Linked DNA regions of Homo sapiens: regions 1 and 2 are each linked to region 3. The links come from fine-mapping of genetic effects on gene expression. A gene starts in region 3. Each other region holds a variant in brackets. All regions are shown on one strand. Distances are between the middles of the regions. Region 1 overlaps CYRIB (CYFIP related Rac1 interactor B). Region 2 overlaps CYRIB (CYFIP related Rac1 interactor B). Region 3 holds the start of CYRIB (CYFIP related Rac1 interactor B).

Region 1 (6,144 bases), 120 kb before region 3:
TCCACAGGTACAAAGATTTCCTATTTCCTGTCCTCCAAAACCTCAAGTTTAATTTTTAGAGTCTGAAATGTCTCACTGATGTTTAAATTTGTATTTTCTTATCAGTAAAAATGTGCACCTCTTTGTATTATATGTTTATGGGCCATCTGTGAAGTGTATATGCATTTCCTTTGTCACCTATGGTCCTTATTTTTCTGTTGTTTCGCAGCCCCACTCCTACCTTTCTGCACTGCTGGGGCTGAGAATGCAAATGACATTTCCCAGACATCTTTGCCAGCTGGGTTCCTGTTAGGAGGAACTGGAGGGTGAGAAGACAGGAGGAAGAGAGAAGTTACTGATTAGAACAGGCTAGCAGTTGTTGTAGGAGCAGTGTGAATAGTATCCAATACCCTAATTAGGGACAGGTGCAGCCTGTAGGTTCCAGCCTAGTGGTGGCAGCAGCTTGTCTCTGGTAAAAGCAGCATCATAATTTCTTATTTTATTTTTGCTACTCTGTTCTCTCCCTTGTTCCTTTTGCTCTTCCAGCTTTTCTAGTATCTTTGTAACCAATCTTCTATATTAAATTGTTTGAAATATCCAGAGTGGTAAGTTTTCCTAACTTAACTTCAACTGTCATACCACTCTTTTTTCAAACTGAGTGTTAGAAATATATATATATATATATTTTTTTAATTAATTTATTTTTTTGAGACAGGGTCTTGCTCTTTTTCGCCCAGGCTGGAGTGTAGTGGTGTGCTCACGGCTCACTGCGACCTCAACCACCCTGGCTCAATCGATCCTCCCACCTCTGCCTCCTGAGTAGCTGGGACTACATGCCCGTGTCATCATGCTAGTGTGTGTCGGCGGGGTTGGGGTGGGGGTGGGGGTGGGGGTGGGGGCAGGGGCAGGGGGAATACTGTTGTTGTTTGTTTTTTTTTGTAGAGACAGGATCTCATCGTGTTGCCCAGACTGGTCTCAAATTCATGGCCTTAAGCAATCCTCCCCCACCCTGGCCTCCTAAAGTGCTGGGATTACAGGCATGAGCCATCATACCTGGCAGCTTTAGAAATTCTGGATACCACCCTTTTAATGCTTATATACAAGGCAGATACTTTCTTCTAGGATCTAACATATCTTAACTTTGTTTATGGTGTTGTTTGTCATAACAGTCCAGTTTTTCATTTTTCTTCATGGTCTGTGCTTACTGTTTAAATAATAATTCTTCAAAATTGCCTTATTCTTGCCCTTTTATTCACTCATGTGATTGTCAAATTCTACAAAAAAATTCTGATGGGATTTTGATTTGATTTTGCATTAAATATATAATTGCCATCTCTATAATTTCAATCATTTTGTCATTTAATCTATGAATATGACAGATTACATAAATTCATTTTCTGTTGCTAAACCATTCTTGCATTCCTGAGATCAAGTCTGCTTGGTTGGTTATTTATTTATGTATTTATTTATTTATGAATAAATGAATGAGGGTGAATGAATAAATTTGAAACACGGTCTTGCTCTGTTGCCCAGGCTGGTCTTGAACTCCTAGGCTCAAGGAAACCTCCTACCTCAGCCTCCCAAGGTGCTACAACTACAATTACAGGCGTGAGCCACTGCACCTGGTTTATTTGATCATTTAAAAATATATATTCCTAGATTTGGTTTTGCTAACATTTCACCTTGGATTATTTTGTAAGACTGACCTGTAATTTTTTTCTCTGTTCCTGTCTGGTTTTGCTGTCAAGCCTATTTTTATACATAGATTTTTCTATTATTTAGAACCATTTATAAACAATACAATGTGTCAATTACTCAGTGAGTTTTATAGGAAAGTTCTTCCAAACATCTAAGAAGTCTACATCTGTTTCATTTTTGAAACTCCAGCCTAACAGACATTCTGTCACACAGCCAGTACTCAATAAATATTTGTCAAATTAATAAATGAACAATTCAAGTAAAAAGCAGCTTATTTATCCAAAAAGAGAATACCTAAACTAAGGGCATCCCATAAAAAGAGTAGGTTTAGGTCAAATTAAACAAAGTGCAACTTAATAAATTAGGGACTAAGTTTATGGAATAATCCCTTAGTCTTACCTACGAAGGGATAATTCAAATACAAGATCTATAAACATCAAGAAAATCAAGGACAAGGTTAACAGGCAAAGGTTTACTGCTAAAACATTAAAGCTGGCCTGGACAGCAATGATATTTTCCCACAATACTCTTTACCACCTCTGAGCTAATCTTCAATGGTGTTTCCCATGTTCTTATGCATTATCGCAATGAGAGTTCAAATCCTTAAAAATCCTGATGACCAACAGTCATCTTCAGAAGTAGCAATTTTAGTTTTCTGCTTTTTGCACAGAGAATAACTAAGGGCTACAGAGACATTCTCATCCATTACTTATAAACATGCCACCCACCTCCCCAGAGTGAGAGTCTCTGGTGCCTCTTCCAGTCACCAAACAGCAGCAAAAAAGCAAGGAACTTAAGGACCTACTGCCAAGTAAACAGGCCTTGTGGCAGTGAAAGGATAAACTGTCCATCATTCTTTCTTCTCCTCGGAGATTTCACAGGAAAAGGAGAAAGCGCAGGAAACAGGAGGCCTACAATTGAAAGGAAATCTGCCAGAATTTGGCATATAGAAG[T/C]AAAGTGTCATTCCTAGTCACCTCACTATGACTGAAATGGATAAGAGATTCTTAAAAATTGTTCTGCTTTCTCTCATAATTTGAGTTAAAAGATAAGGTATTCTCTGAAGTTAAGTATCCCTTAATTTCTGGGGTTGACTAGGGGCTCTTCTCAACACTATAGTCACTGTGAAGAGTGAAAGACAACAGGCAGAATGGCTTTATATCCCATTACCAATAAATAAGAGAATCTCAGACCAGGAAGGGACCATTCACGGTCAAATGGAAGACTCACCCTTGACTATTTAACCTTAGTATGAATCTATTCTACAACATATCCACACCAAGTAGCCATCTCACCACTGCTTAAATACTCTACATGACTTAAATTTTAGACTTTGGTCAATTTTTAGAAAAATTTGTAGAAACTTAAGACAATGACTGAATAAGCACAATTAAGACATGAATTCTACCCTCGAAAACCATACAATCCTTGTATTAAACTGAAATTCACCCATTTGTTAACATCTCCTCCTTGGTTTAAATTCTCTTTGGCCTCCTAGAAATAAACTAAACACAATCCCTGTGCTACTTAACAAACCATTAAATATATGAAGTATCTTAAAACAACAGTCAAATGAGGTCAAAATAAAGTTACCCATCAGATTATGTATGTTCACATTTGCAAAGGTACAAACAAGACATCTCCTATCTAGTAATGCCAGCCAAGAATTTAGCTTCTGAGTAGAGTTTATAAGTGATTTTCTAGGTAGGGAGAGGCATGGTGGGCGGCTAATGCCTATAATCCCAGCAGTTTGGGAGGTGGAGGTGGGAGGATTGCTTGAGCCCAGGAGTTCGAGACCAGCCTGGGCAACATAGCGAAACTCCATCTAAATTTTTATTTTTTGAGACAGAGTTTCACTCTTGTCACCCAGGCTGGAGTGCAGTGGAGCAATCTTGGCTCACTGCAATCTCTGCCTCCTGGGTTCAAGTGATTCTCCTGCCTCAGCCTCCCAAGTAGCTGGAATTACAGGCATTTGCCAATACGCCCGGCTGATTTTTGTATTTTTAGTAGAGATGGGGTTTCGCCATGTTGGCCAGGCTGGTCTTGAGCTCCTGACCAGGTGATCCACCCGCCTCGGCCTCTCAAGGTGCTGGAATTACAGGCGTGAGCCACTGTGCCTGGCCCCAATCTAAAAATTTTTTTTAAGTTTTTTTGTTTTTTTTTTTAAAGGAATACTCATCACAAAGACCTTGTTAAACATTATAGGCTAAAGAACCAAGGGCAGTGGAAACTTTTTTCCCTGTGATCTTAACTTCTGTTTCCAAAGCACCCTGCAGAGGGCTTTGCATGACGTTAGTGCTAATGTTAAGTTAATAAATGAACGTTTATTGTGGCACATACAATTCATCCAAAAACAATTAAGAAAAATTTCAAGTGTTCCTAAAAGAAATTAGTACTAAAACTTCTAAGTTAGAAAAAAAATTTCACTGGAAAAAACTTTTTTAAGAAAAGCAGTAAGTATGTTATGGATGGTTGGATGCAGAAGCTAAAAGTAAAATAAATTTAAAAAAGAAAAATGTATGCTTATTAGGAAAAGAAGACGGATGTTAAGAAATGTTCTTAAATAGTTTTCAACAGTTTGTCAGGTCTTTCTGTTTGAGCCTTGTACACTAACGGAATTTAATACAAGTGAAATTACAAAAGGCACAAATGTTTTCCTGGTTCTTGAACTTAATTTAACTGAACTAAAATTAAAATCATTCTCTTAAATCTATCTCCTCCAGGCTTATCATAACCAAACAGAATACAAAAACATATTTTTCTTCTCTTGGTAATAGAATTTTAAAGATATGTACTTGAATAATTTTCTACATTAATAAATCAGTATCTCTTACAGTGCTAAAAAGAGTCCAGCAGAGGTCATTCATTTACATTCTGATGTTGCCAAGGAGGTGGTAATTATAACTGAATATATACAGTTTTACTTTGCCTTTCTTTTTTTTTTTGGAGTCTCACTCTGTCGCCCAGGCTGGGGAGTGCAGTGGCAGGATCTCGGCTCACTGCAACCTCTGCCTCCCAAGTCAAGTGATTCTCGTGCCTCACCCTCCCAAGTAGCTGGGATTACAGGCATGTGCCACCAGGCCCGGCTAATTTTTGTATTTTTAGTAGAGACGGGGTTTTGCCATGTTGACCAGGCTGATCTCGAACTCCTGACACCTCAGGTGATCTACCTGCCTCAGCCTCCAAAGTACTGGGATTTACAGGCATGAACCACTGCACCTGGCCTTTCATTATATCATTTTTTAAAATACAATTTTACTTCAGAAAGAAGTAAAATTTTACAGCAGAAAGAGATCCCCCTCAGTAAATTTAAAAAGCAGGTCCCATAATTATTTTCAAATGACAAATGACAAGGCCAGGTATCTTTGTAAATAATTTTGCAAAAGCTGGTTTGTTTTATTTTAAAGGCTGATTTATATAAAATAGGAAGAAACCTATGTTTTCTTAATACTGTGGAATAAGCTAATTGTAAATGAAATGTTGAGATCATTATTAGGACCAAATGCAGTATGTGCATATCATATAAATTTTTTTAACTAAGTATGCCATTAATTATTACACCTTCTAGTTTCACAAAGCATATAAAAAGGAAATGTTTATATAAAGCAAAGTTCAAATCACTAAACCACTTTGAATTTTTACTGTCAACCTACATAACAGAGAGAGGATCACAAAGAAAAGATGTTTATTTCAGAACAGAGCATTGCAATAGGAATATGCATAACATAGTAAACTATGCCATACATATTCAGGGAGGTAAAGGAAGACAAAGGTTTTTAAAGGAGAAACAAGGGTTATATAATAGTTTTGAAATAAATATCCTTAGCTACAAAGATCAATAACAAGGGTGACACCAGTTGGAGGCTGAACAGGCAGTTGCTGGGCAGATGTCCTTGCAGAAGTACTATTTTGTGTAAGGTGGTGATGGCCTTTGTGTAAGGATATGGTCTTTGTAGTCTCTTTCATTATCAGGCATACAAGTGTGAGAACACTCTCTTCACAGCCTTCCCTGGCTCTGTACACAGCTTCCCTGGGTTTCCTTAACATTAGTAACTCCATTTTGATTCTGAAGACTTTCACTACCACATGTCTAAAGGTGCTAAAAAAACGGAGAAAGGGGATGACAAAGGATAGAAAATCTGAGCCCAGACTAAAGGGTTTGTGAAATGACTTGAACGAGCTCAACTCCCTAATTTTATGAAAGAAGGGAAATAAAGACTAGAGCAACCTGGTGACTTGGACAAAGCAGCAAATGAGTAAAAAAAAAATGTGGGGCTTAATCCACTGACTCTGGCAGTGCAGCTTTTGAGAACCTCTTTAAAACATGGCATCAGGGCCAGATGACATCAAAAGAATTAAGTACCACCACAACAAAGGAAACAAAAACGAAAGTCACGTTCCCAACTATGTCCCCTTTGAAATGATTGTTAATGCTGTTTTTGCTGTTAATCAAACTTTAACAGACCTGAC
Region 2 (6,144 bases), 58 kb before region 3:
TTATTAAAAGGATGGTTGCATCCATCGGGATGGGATAGGTTATGCTGTGGTAACAAAGAACACCTAAATCTCAGCCCTAAGGATGACCACAATGGTCCCTCTGGGGTCAAGAAGGTAAGCCCAGCAGCCCCATCTTTCTCATTTTCACCTGACAATCTGGTTAGCCAACTCTGTGGCTTACATAAGTTTGAAAGATATGACCCTCTCCTTTCCTTCTCCAACCACCTACAAAACTGTCTCGTGGAGCGCAGTGAGAATCAGAAGTGATTATCTTTGTAAAACATCGAGAATGCTGCCTGGCATATAGGTAGCAGCCAGTAAATAATAATGATGGCTACTACCATTGTCACTTCCATTATCCCCACCCCTTCTCAAATAATAATAATAATGATATTATAATTCTCACAGAGCAGTGATTCCTGAACTTAACTTGTCCTGAACATTAGAATCATCTGGAGAGCTTAAAAAAACTAATGCTTGTGTCCCACCCCTAGAGTCTATGAAGTAATTCATCTAGTGTATGACCTTAGGCTTGGGATTTTAAAAGATTGCCAGGTGATTCCAAAGTGTAGACAAGTTTGGAAACCAGCCTCAAGAGGCAGCAAGATTCATATATACACATACATGTCTTTGTGTTTGCACACACACACACACACACACACCTGCTCCCAAGTTCCATGAATCATGCTCCCTGTATGACAGTAGTGGTTATATCACTTAGGGTGAGCTGGGTTATGCTGTGGTAACAGAGCCCCTGAATCTCATCCCTAATGAAAACCAATTGATCACCCCTGCAGGGTCACAATGAGCCCAGAAGCCCTGTTTTTCTGGTCTTTACCTGACAGTTAAGCCTATTCTTTTTTCTTTTTCAGTCTTTACTTGACATTTAAGCCTATTTTTCCTTCCTTCCTTCCTCCCTCCTCCCTCCCTCCCTCCCCCCAGCCTCTCTTTCTTTCTTTCTTTCTTGGCTCTTGCTCTGTCACCCAGGCTGGAGTGCAGTAGCATGACCATGGTTCACTGCAGCCTTGACCTCCAGGGCTCCAGTGATCCTCCCACCTCAGACTCCCAAGTAGCTGGGACTACAGACACACACGACTGTGCCTGGCTGATTTTTGTTCTTTTCTTTTCTATTTTCTTTTTGTGTGTGTAGACACAGGGTCTTGCTGTGTTGCTAGGACTGACCTCAAACTCCTGGGCTCAAGCAATCCTCCCACCACAGCCTCCCTAAATGCTGAGATTACAGGCATGAGCCACTGTGCATGGCCTAAGCCTCTGCATTTTATCCTCAGACCTTTCTCATGTTCTATTTTCTTCTACTTCATACCTTTCCCCAAGTCCAGGTAAAGTTTGCCTGGCCCAGAGTAAATCAGCACCCAAAGATGACACCAATGTGGACAGACTTAGGGGAAATCTGGTTAGAAGAAGGCCACTAAAGGCTATCAGTACTTAAGGCTGTACTTTGCTCAATTCTCTGTCCCCAAGACTTAAAACACAGCACACAATGTGGTAGAAATTTGGATAGTTAAATCAGTTATCATCAGTAATAACCTAGAAGAAAAGCAGACACAAGAACTCAAAAAGCACAGCATCTAAGCTGAAAACCTTATTTATCAACTTGTCACCAACCACCATTTGAATTTCAAATTTTTTTATTGCCGGCACGATGGCTCACACCTGTAATCCCAGCACTTTGGGAGGTGGAGGTGGGCGGATTACTTGAAGTCAGGTGTTCCAGACCAGCCTGGCCAACATGGTGAAACCCCATCTCTACTAAAAATAAAAAAAATTGGCCGGCGTGGTGGCACATGCCTGTAATCCCAGCACTTTGGGAGGCCGAAGCAGGTGGATCATGAGGTCAGGAGATCAAGACCATCCTGGCTAACATGGTGAAACCCCGTCTCTACTAAAAATACAAGAAATTAGCCAGGGATAGTGGCGGGTGCCTATAGTCCCAGCTACTTAGGAGGCTGAGGCAGGAGAATGGTGTGAACCTGGGAGGCAGAGCTTGCAGTGAGCCGAGATCGCGCCACTGCACTCCAGCCTGGGCGACAGAACGAGACTCCATCTCAAAAAAAAAAAAAAAAATACAAAAAATACAAAAAATTAGCCAAGCTAATTAGCCAAGTGGCACACGCCTGTAATCCCAACTACTTGGGAGGCTGAGGAATGAGAATCGCTTGAACCCGAGAGATGGAGGTTGTAGTGAGCCAAGATCGTGCCACTGCCCTCCAGCTTGGGCAAAGAGTGAGACTCTGTCTCTGGGGAAAAAAAATATTAATTTCTCCCTGGATAAAATTGTATCTGCTGGGGTGGAATGGAAGTAGGTGAGGTTGGGGGACCTATGAAGAAAAAAGAGCCTTTCCACTGGGCAGTGAAGTGTGTACACACACACTGGGGGCAGAGCAGTGTGAAAACATTCTGCACCAGCACACAAATGACTTTTGGCAAATCATCTTCCTGATCTGTCGGATGTTACGTCTCTGCAGAATCTGGAGAAAACCAGAAAACCCAGCTTGTTTGCCCTCATTTTGGCAGTTTAATTTAGGAATCACACTGGCTTTACATAAACTCTTTACCAAAAAAACTGTATTCTGTATTTTGAAGGCACAAGTTAACATGGGCCCAAGGGAAGGAAGCATTGTATACAATTACATAATAGCTACTCTATTACTTTAAAACCTAATGGCAGCCTCGGGCAGAAAAGTCAAAAGGGGAGAGAAACCATTTCTGTGAAATTATCTGATGCAATCATCTCTTTGGAGACATTGTCAGTTGACAATGGTTCTGCTTTTTCTCTCGAGCTCATTCAATTTCTGTTATTTACCTGAACCTGGAAGCAGAGTTTTCCTCCCATCTACCACTGGTTTAAAAAAAAAAAAAAAAAAGAGGCCGGGAGCAGTGGCTCACGCCTGTAATCCCAACACTTTGGGAGGCTGAGGCGGGTGGATCACGAGGTCAGGAGTTCAAGACCAGCCTGGCCAAGATGGTGAAACCCCCGTCTCTACTAAAGATACAAAAATTAGCCGGCTGTGATGGCGGGCGCCTGTAATCCCAGCTACTCGGGAGGCTGAGGCAGAGAATTGCTTGAATCTGGGAGGCAGAGATTGCAGTGAGCCGAGATCATGCCACTGCACTCCAGCCTGGGCAACAGAGACTCTGTCTCAAAAAAAAAAAAAAAAAAAAAAAAACAAAGGCAGGCAGGATTTCTCTAATAAAAGCTTGAAATGAAAAGCAGTAACTACTCCCAAGGCCCTGCTTATTGTAGAAAAGTCATTCAACAAATCTTTTTAGGTCTCTATTAACAATTTATTTTCTCTACCCCCATCACAAAAAAGCAGAGGAAGTAGTGTAGCAGCCCCAGCCACAGCCACAGCCACACCC[CACT/C]ACTTGCTTCCTAGGTGTGTGTGGTGTGTGACTGCCTGCAAGCAACTCCAGCTCTCTGAACTTGTTTCCTCATCTGCAAACTGGAAATATTTATTTATTTGACAAGGACATTATGAGAATTTACTCTGAAAAATACATGTAGAGTACCTAGCATTCAATTAAGACTAGGTGAATGCCCTTCTCAGGAACCGTACTAGAGAAGGTGAGTTTCTGGTCCAGTGTGATGACTCACGCCTGTAATCCCAGCACTTTAGGAGGCTGAGGTGAGAGGATGGCTTGAACCCAGGAGTTTGAGACCAGACTGGGCAACTTAGCAAGACCCCATCTCTATTATTAATATTTTAAAAAATAAGAAAAAGGTGAGTGTCTAATAAGAGATAATACTTTTACCCATCTTTGTACGCCAATCCTACCACATCTACTCCACTCCTTCCCCATCAAGAGGCATTCTTCAGTCAGGCACACCTTACCTCCAATTCCAAGGGCAGGTCCTGAATGGTCTAAGCCAATCAGTATTATCCCATTTCCCACCACAATTAATTGAAAGATGAATGCATGTCCTGAAATGATCCAATCAGGACAAAGTTCAGGAAGTTTGTTCAGTGGCTCTAGGGAGAGATGGTAGCTCTTTTCTCTCACGACTATGAAGGAAGTCAATCTGAGAAGAGCCCACAGACAGAAGTACAGAGCTGGGAGGATCTTAAGGAAAGGAAGACGGAGCCCTGACCTATCCTACCTCTACAATTTTTGGTTATGTGAGCCACTTAACTGCTTTTATCAATTATCCCATTTGAACTGGGATTTATGACACTTGCAATTCAAAGCATCTAACTGATACATCCTGGTGCATGGCTGAATAAATCACTGAATGAAAGACTGCACACTTCCAATTATTTAACTCAGACTTTAAGTTCCCTGGGAGCAGAAACCCTGGTCAATCTTGGTCACCCAGGGCCAAACAGAGTTTCTGTACACAGGCCCTCCTTAAGTACTTTTTAAAATAAATGAATGAAATGAAACTTAACAAATCACGATCAGGCGCAGTAGCTCGTACCTGTAATCCCAGCACTTTGGGAGGCCAAGGTGGGTGGATCACCTGAGGTCAGGAGTTTGAGACCAGCCTGGCCAACATGGCGAAACCCCGCCTCTACTAAAAATACAAAAATTAGCTGGGCATGGTGGCGGGCACCTGTAATCCCAGTTACTCAGGAGGCTGAGGCAGGAGAATAGGATAATCGCTTAAACCTGGGAGGCAGAGGTTGCAGTGAGCCAAGATCGATCGCTTAAACCTGGGAGGCAGAGGTTGCAGTGAGCCAAGATCAAGCCACTGCTTTCCAGCCTGGGCGGCAGAGCGAGACTCTGTCTCAAGAAAAAAAAAAAAAAAAAAAAGGCTGGGCATGGTGGCTCATGCCTGTAATCCCAGCACTTTGGGAGGCCGAGGCAGGCGGATCACAAGGTCAGGAGTTCGAGACCAGCCTGACCAACATGGTGAAACCCCCATCTCCACTAAAAATACAATAATTAGCTGGGCATGGTGGCACGCACCTGTAACCCCAGCTCTCAGGAGGCTGAAGCAGGAGAATTGCTTGAACCCGGGAGGCGGAGGTTGCAGTGAGCCAAGATCATGCCACTGCACTCCAGCCTGGGCGACAGAGCAAGACTCAGTCTCAAAAAAAAAAAAAAAAGAAAGAAAGAAAGAAAGAAACTAGGAAACTTACCAATCACCTCACATTTCAGAAGCTTTGAAAGCCCTACTCCCCAGACCTACCTGGATCAAAGGAGGGTCAAGAGGAAGCCCATATGATTTTGGAGCCATCAGACAGGGCTGGGCTCAAATCGTGACTCTAAATAAGCCTCGGCTTCTTCCCCTGAAAAATGGAGACAATAATACCTATTTCCCTGGGCAGGAGGAGCCATGTCAAAGAACCAGGGGGAGGTCTCATTCAAGAAATATTTATTTCCCCCCTGTTCAGCTAACCCTACTTCATTCCATGGGTTCTGCTCTGGGGTTCAGAAACGGGAGTCATCATATGGACAGAGTGGTGGGACACAGCCCAGATCACCCAGCAGAGCCAGCCCTGGGAGGATGAGAACAGGTGAGGCACACCCTAAGCCTCCCATACCTCAATATCCATCAGTCCCTTTAGGAGCAGCATCCTAGGCAGACAGCATAGATAAAACTGGGCCATCCAGCTTCTTGGTTTTGCTGGTTGCCTCCTTACAGAGGGGTGGGACTAGTGCAACTCCCATTATCATAGATCTGTACAACCTTAGAGGCTGTCATTTAACCGTTTAGAAGTAATATGGAACTTGGCCAGACTGTAAGCTCCAAGAGGGCAGGGGCTTGAATCATTCACTAGTCCATCTCTGGTACCCAGGTAGGCAATCAATGGAATATTTCCTGAGTACATGAGTGAAGATGAATGAGTGGATAAACAAATATTGATGAAATCAAGATCTCAGAAGAGAACTATGGCAAAACCCTATTATTTAGTACAGTCTGCTGGCTATGCAGCAGCTAAATCAAATACCAGGCAATGCAAGGGGCTTCTGAAACTGGCAGACCTAGACTGAATTCTGGCCTTGTCAGAGCCCAGGCCTATGACCTCGGGCAAGTTCCTAAACTCTCTGAGCTAGTTTCTTTAACAAACACAATTATCAAGATTAAATAAAAATTTTTTAATTGCGGCCAGATGCAGTGGCTTGTGCCTGTAATCTCAGCACTTTGGGAGGCCGAGGTGGGAGGATGGCTTGAGCCCA
Region 3 (6,144 bases):
GTGTGTCTGATAAAATTCATACTTAAAATCTGAATTTTCAGCTATACAACACTTCCTTTACAATGCTCAGTGGTGGACGATTTTGCTGAAGACAGCCAAGTCCCAGACCGCCAAAGCCACATGAATCGTGGTCTCTTCAATTAACGAGATGGCAGTAATGCTGAGCACGGGTGAGGCCACAACCTCCTGGCACCCGCGTCCCTCGGGCGTCCTTCCTGTTCTTCGTGTGCATGGGTCTCTGGATCCTGATATAAGAGCTGTCAGGGACCAGGATTCCACATAGGGAGGAACCACGGGACAACCATTTCAAGGTCAACTGCAGGCCAGTGCGCTGACCTTGAGATGGAAAAAGAATGTACATCCTCAAAGAGCAAAGGGGAACCCATCATTCTTCTGCCCATTCTGTCAAAAGACACGTACTGTTTCCTGCATGGGCCAGGCAGCAGGTCAGGTGCCAGAGGAAGCACAAAGACCACTCAGCGTCTGCAAGAAGAAAAGTGAGCTCTGCAGGCTGAAGACTTAGGCAAGGACCCTCAATCTGCCCCTTCCTGACTGAAGGTCTTGGGCCAAGTCCTGCACTCTCTCTAAGTCTCAGGAAAACGAGAACCCTAGCTCTCCTTTACAGGTAACCCTGGCCACTCCACAGTTCAGTCATTAAAAATGAATCTGGGCCGGGCACAGTGGCTCACACCTGTAATCCCAGCACTTTGGGAGGCTAAGGCAGCGAGGATCCCTTGAGCCCAGGAGTTCGGGCAACATGGAGAGACCCCATCTCTACAAAACATTAAAAAATTAGTTGGGCATGGTGGTGCACACCCGTGGTCCCAGCTACTTGGGAGGCTGAGGTAGGAGGATGGCTTGAGCCTGAGAGGTCAAGGTTGCAGTAAGACATGATCACGCTACTTCTGCACTACTTCAACCTCAGCAATGCGTGAGACCCTGTCAAAACACAAACAAAATGAATCTGCACATGCTCAAACTGCAGCACGCTGCTGCACAGAAGGGTCTGCACTGTCTCTTAAAAATAATAGTAGCACTTACGGGGGTCGGGAGTTGGGGGACCCACATAGCTAAGGATCCTAAGAGAGGCACACAGAAGACTTTGGGAGCTGAGAAAGGAGAAGGGGTGGCTGTCAGAGACAGCAAAATTACTTGAAAATCTCCCAAAGTGAAGGGCAGAAACATATATTGGCCTTTATCTGAAAACCATTTCCAAGTCTCCCTGTGCTGGAACCCACTTCAGCCTCCTGCATCACACACTCTGCCCTTCTCCGTGCTGTGAGCCCAGCAAGGATCTAGAGTGCAAATTCCAATGTGCCTCCTCAGGAAGAAAACTCAGGCCAGCTGACCACTTCTGCATGCCGACCAAGGTAGAAAAGTCACCTCTTCCGGGCTTCCCCCACATTACAGGAACCCCAGGCCTGGGAAACCATCCCAGACGTCAGCCCTGGCTCAGTCTTGGCTGTTGGCCTCAGCCAGTCACCTGGCGGTGGCAATCAAAATGACGCCTTCTTTTTATTTTTCCCCCAGTGCAATCTTCCAAGAATGGGAGAGTCTCAAAGTCAGAGTTTAAGCCCTTTTTCACAAGGGAGTCAGTATTTTCACAAGATGGTCTTCCTCAGAGAGGGGAGGAGTCCATCCAACCCAGATAGCAAAATTGCTCCCTGGAGATCCTGGATGGATGTTACAGGGCAAGGAAGCCAAAATGTGGAAGCACACCGACTCACCTCTCAAAATTCACCACCCACTCGTTCATCTCACAATTATCTATGGGGTGCTTCCCACGTGCTTCAACGCACCCTTTCTAGGTGCTGGGGATGCAGAAATTCAAGGTGACTGGCAATGACACTTTCTATCACTGCGCCCCCTGCAGGCCAGGAAATCTACGCTCGTTTTCTCAAGGCCCCACTCGCAGCAGCCCATTTCACAGACGGGACCCTAAGACTCAGAGAGGGTAAGCGACTTGCCCAAGGTCACACAGCTAGTAAGCGGCAGGGCCAGGAATTAAACATAGCTGCAAAGTGCATGTGACACTCCCCCGCAGCCCCAGCTCTATCCCTCCGCACCCCTCCACCTCTTGCAGCAGGGTGGGTAGCAAAGGCACACTCCAAGTAGCTCCAGCATGGTAAGACCTCGATTCCTCCTTCGTTCCACTCCTGACACAGGACACACGTTTCAAAGGACACACAGGTTTTTCCCAACCCCAGTGTGTGTGTACACAGCCCCAGGAAAGCCCTGCAGGCTGCAAGGGCACCCACCCGCTAACACTGAACTTCCATTTAAAAAGAAAGATAATGAAAAGATAAAAGGCGAAGAGGAAGTGCTCTTTAAACACAGGCGGGTGGCTACCCCAGGAGGAAGTCTTGAGGCCAGTGGAGATTTTGTTCACCCCCTCTAGTTCCTCAAATCCAATGCGACTGGTCTTCCAAGCCCCTGATGGGAGGTGGCCGGGGGCCAGCGCTGCTCCCGGGGTCAGTCCCCGCACCGACACCCGGCTCGCAGGAAGGGTCTGCCAGGGACCAGCCACCCCGACCCGAGCGCCCCCTGCCTCGAGGCGCACAAGGCGCCGGCTCCGCAGCTGGGTGGACCCGGGCGGCGGCCCCGCTGCGCGCTCCCCTCGCGTCCGCCCGCCGCCCCCCGCGCACTCGAGGCGCCTCCCCCGGGACCCCCGCGCCCGCCGGCCCGGACGCCCCCACCACGGCGGCGCCCCCTGTCCACCCGCCGCAGCGCCCGGCCCGGCGGCCCGGATGGTACCTCCGCCTCTCCCCGCACCCATCACGCGCGCGCCCCGCACCCCGCGCCCTCTCCGGGGGCAAATCGGATCCAGGGGCGCGCGCGCGGGCCGGCCGGGCGGCGGCGCCTTCAGAGCCCCGGCACGTACCTGGCGGCCCGGGCGGGCGAGGGGAGCGCGGCGCGGGAGCGCAGGAGCCTCGGAGCCTCCGGTGCCGCCGCCGCCGCCGTTTCCGGGTTGGCGGGGCTCACGTCACCGCCACAGGTTTGCGAGCTGCCCCCGCCGCGGCGGCAGCAGCAGCAGCAGCAGCAGCCCGGGCGAGTGCCAGGCGAGAAATAACTATAAAAGGAAGAGGCGCGGCGAGGAGGAAGAGGAAGCGCTGTTTACCTTCGAGAAGCCGAGCCGCCGGCGCTCGCACAAAAGGAGGACGCTCGCCTCGCGACGCGCCTCCCCCCGCGCCCAGTCCCCGCCGCATCGCGGGGCCCCGGCGTCAGCGCGCGCCGCGCCCCGGGACCGCCCCGCGCCGGCCCCCACCCCAGAACCCCGCGCCCGCCTGGCCCGTGTCCTCCCGAGCCGGGGCGCCACGGGCCCGGGACGGTGGTGACCTTGGGCAAGTCACCGCGGGGCGCGCTGCGATTGGGGGTCATCGCCCTCATTGTGCGAGGAGGAAACCCGGCTCCGAGAGGCGCAAGAGTGACCCCCAAGGTCACTGCCTGTCAGGCAGGGCTTGGGCTCGAACCCCGGTCTCCAGACCTTCAGGCCGGCCAGGTTCCCATCCCTGGGTCGCTTCCCCCTCACCTGGACTTCAGGAATGGTGACAGCCCCTGCCTGGCTCACCTCGCAGCGGGGTCAGTGAGAGGAATGCTGTCCACGCACCCATTCAGCCCTCCCGCAGATACTTACTGGGCCTACTAAGTGCCCGGGCTGTTCTAGGCCCTGGAGCTGCAGCTGCGAACCAAAACAAAATCCCTGCCCGGGAGGGGCAGCGGGGACAGGCCGTAAATATCTGATGGGTCCTATGGTGCTAAGTGCTGTGCCAGAGGAAAAATAAAGCGGGGTGAGGGGACGGTGCGGGCTGTCGGTGCTACCCTAAGCGGTTCTCCAAGGACTTTAAATTTAGTACAGAAATTCCCACATAAAAAGCTCCTCGCCATAATTCCAGTTTCAGGTATTATGGGAGACCTCATCTTTCCCCTGATCTAGAATGGAAAATACTGTGTTTTTCTCCCTGTAACAGGACATGCCTAGGAAACTGATACTCTCCTTCCCTCTGCCTTGCTCCCCTGGCCCAGAAGCCCATCCTATCATTATCTTGACATTCAACCAGAAATTTCTCGGGAAGATAGACAACATTCTCTCAAGTATCTTTCTGCTGTCCTCTAGCAGGGTATCAAAAGGGTTACATCAAAGGCTTCCATTGTCTTTCCACCTCCACCTCCAGCTATAGGGGGGTTGGAGTGTGCTCACATCATACTCAGTGCTGAGTTACCTGATTAGGAGCCAGTTGTTCCATTTCTTTTCTTTTTTCTTTCTTTTTTTTTTTTTTGTCTAAGACAGGATTTTGCTCTGTTTCCCAGGCTAGGTAGCGCAGTGATGCGATAGCTCACTGCAGCCTCAAATTCCTGGGCTCAAGCGATCCTCCCACCTCAGCCTCCCGAGTTGCTGGGACCACGGGTATGCACCACCATGCTCAGCTAATTTTTATAGATTTTTGTAGAGGTGGGTCTCCCTGTGTTGCCCTGGCTGGCCTGTTTCTCCTGGGCTCAAGGGATCCTCCCTGCCTCCGCCTCCCAAAGTGTGGGGATTACAGGCATAAACCACCACACCCAGCCCGCCAATTCTTTAACAAAGGTGCCTTGCGCCTTCTCTTGGCCAGGCCCAGTTCTCGGAGCTGGGGACCCTGAGATGGTGCCATTTCAGCAGTACTCCCTGGACTGCTCTCTAAGCTTACCCGAGCGCCAGTGCCTTCATTCCTAAAGGAAGGGAACTAATGTCCACCTTGCTGTGGGGGCTGAGAAGTAGGTGGGGAAACACTGGGTCCTGAACTATGACCTTGAGGAGAAGCAGGAAAAGGGTTTGGAAGCAGGCAGAGCTGAGCCGCTTATAAAATGAGCATTAACAATTCTGAACATTTATAAAGTACTAAGCAGGTGCCAAGTGTGTGCAGGCCCATGAAGCAGGTTTATCATGGCCCAGTGTCATGCATTAAGATACTGCAGCTGGAAGAGAGATGAGATTTGCCCAAGATCACACAGATTAGACAGCGGTGGAGCTGGGTATGTACCTAGATTGTCTGACTCCAGAGCCCAAGCACTTAGCCACTCTCAGCCTCAGTTTGTTCATCTGTGAAATGGAATGGATAATAATGACTTCGTTAGGTTATGGTGAGGGTTAAATGAAATAGCGAATATATAGAACCTAATATGGATAGGACCCAGGAGAAAGCAATCACCATTGTTGTTACTATTATCATAACTGTTACAATTTACCTTTTTTTTTTTTTTTTTTTTTGAGGCAGGGTCTCACTTTGTCACCCAGGCTGGAATGCGGTGGCGCAATTTTGGCTCACTGCAATCTCTGCCTCCCGGGTTCAAGCAATTCTCATGCCTCAGCCTCCCAAGTAGCTGGGATTACAGATGTGCACCACCACGCCTGGCTCATTTTTGTATTTTTAGTAGAGGTGGAGTTTCACCATGTTGGCCAGGCTGGTCTCGAACTCCCAACCTCAGGCGGTCCGCCCACCTCAGCCTCCCAAAAACCGCACCCAGCCTAATTTTTGTATTGTTCTGTGATGACAAGATTTTGCCATGTTGCCCAGGCTGGTCTCAAACTCCTGAACTCAAGCGTTCCACCCGCCTCAGCCTCCCAAAGTGCTAGGATTACAGGCTCAAGCCACTGCGCCTGGCCTACCATAATAATTGTTAAAGGCATGAGGTAAGGAACTTTCAGGCAAGCTTGGGATCTGTAAATAGTTTGATGTGAGCGTAACATGGAATGCAAATTTGGGGGTCCAGGAAGCAGGGAAGAATAGATGAAGGTGAGGGCAGGGCTTGGATGCCTGCTAGCCTGCACTCTACTGAATTCTGAAATATGTGGGATGGAGAGTCTAACTCTGATGTGTGTGTCTCAGAGGAGAAAGTCTCCATTCACTGGATACAGTGAGGCTGAGAGCATGAGCCTAGGCTCACTCTGATCCTGATAGGTTTGACCAATTCAAGCCATTGGGAACCTGGGAATAATACCCGGGGAAACCTCTGGCAATTCTGTAGTGACTGCTCTGTTTCCCCGGGATGTCAACCCTGACAATGGTAGGCAGAAGTCCAGCATCCTATAGACAGCACTGTCTTTGGAGTTGGGAAAGCCTGCCTGCCATTTTCAGCTGTGCAATTCTGGGCAAGTCATTTAACCTCTGA

What was found. PIP is the estimated chance that this variant, and not a neighbour inherited with it, causes the effect.
Region 1: its variant is the best candidate, but not a certain one, in a credible set for the expression of CYRIB in whole blood (TOPMed, PIP 0.73).
Region 2: its variant is the best candidate, but not a certain one, in a credible set for the expression of CYRIB in whole blood (TOPMed, PIP 0.86).

Annotation. Positions count from the first base shown.
Region 1 is chr8:129,894,267-129,900,410 of GRCh38, forward strand. The region is part of intron 4 of CYRIB (CYFIP related Rac1 interactor B); the gene reads right to left. Among named protein-coding and RNA genes, the nearest start is that of GSDMC, 110 kb to the left of the region's middle. RefSeq lists a silencer at 5,443-5,643. The variant T/C (reference allele first, on the strand shown) is at 2,631.
Region 2 is chr8:129,955,897-129,962,040 of GRCh38, forward strand. All of the region lies in intron 2 of CYRIB (CYFIP related Rac1 interactor B), which reads right to left. Among named protein-coding and RNA genes, the nearest start is that of MIR5194, 49 kb to the right of the region's middle. RefSeq lists an enhancer at 3,225-3,725. The variant CACT/C (reference allele first, on the strand shown) is at 3,382.
Region 3 is chr8:130,013,489-130,019,632 of GRCh38, forward strand. It overlaps CYRIB (CYFIP related Rac1 interactor B), which reads right to left and starts at 3,072. Exons shown (of 14, transcript NM_001353258.2): 1 at 2,882-3,072. RefSeq lists silencers at 2,365-2,634, 2,825-3,014, 3,105-3,174, 3,225-3,284.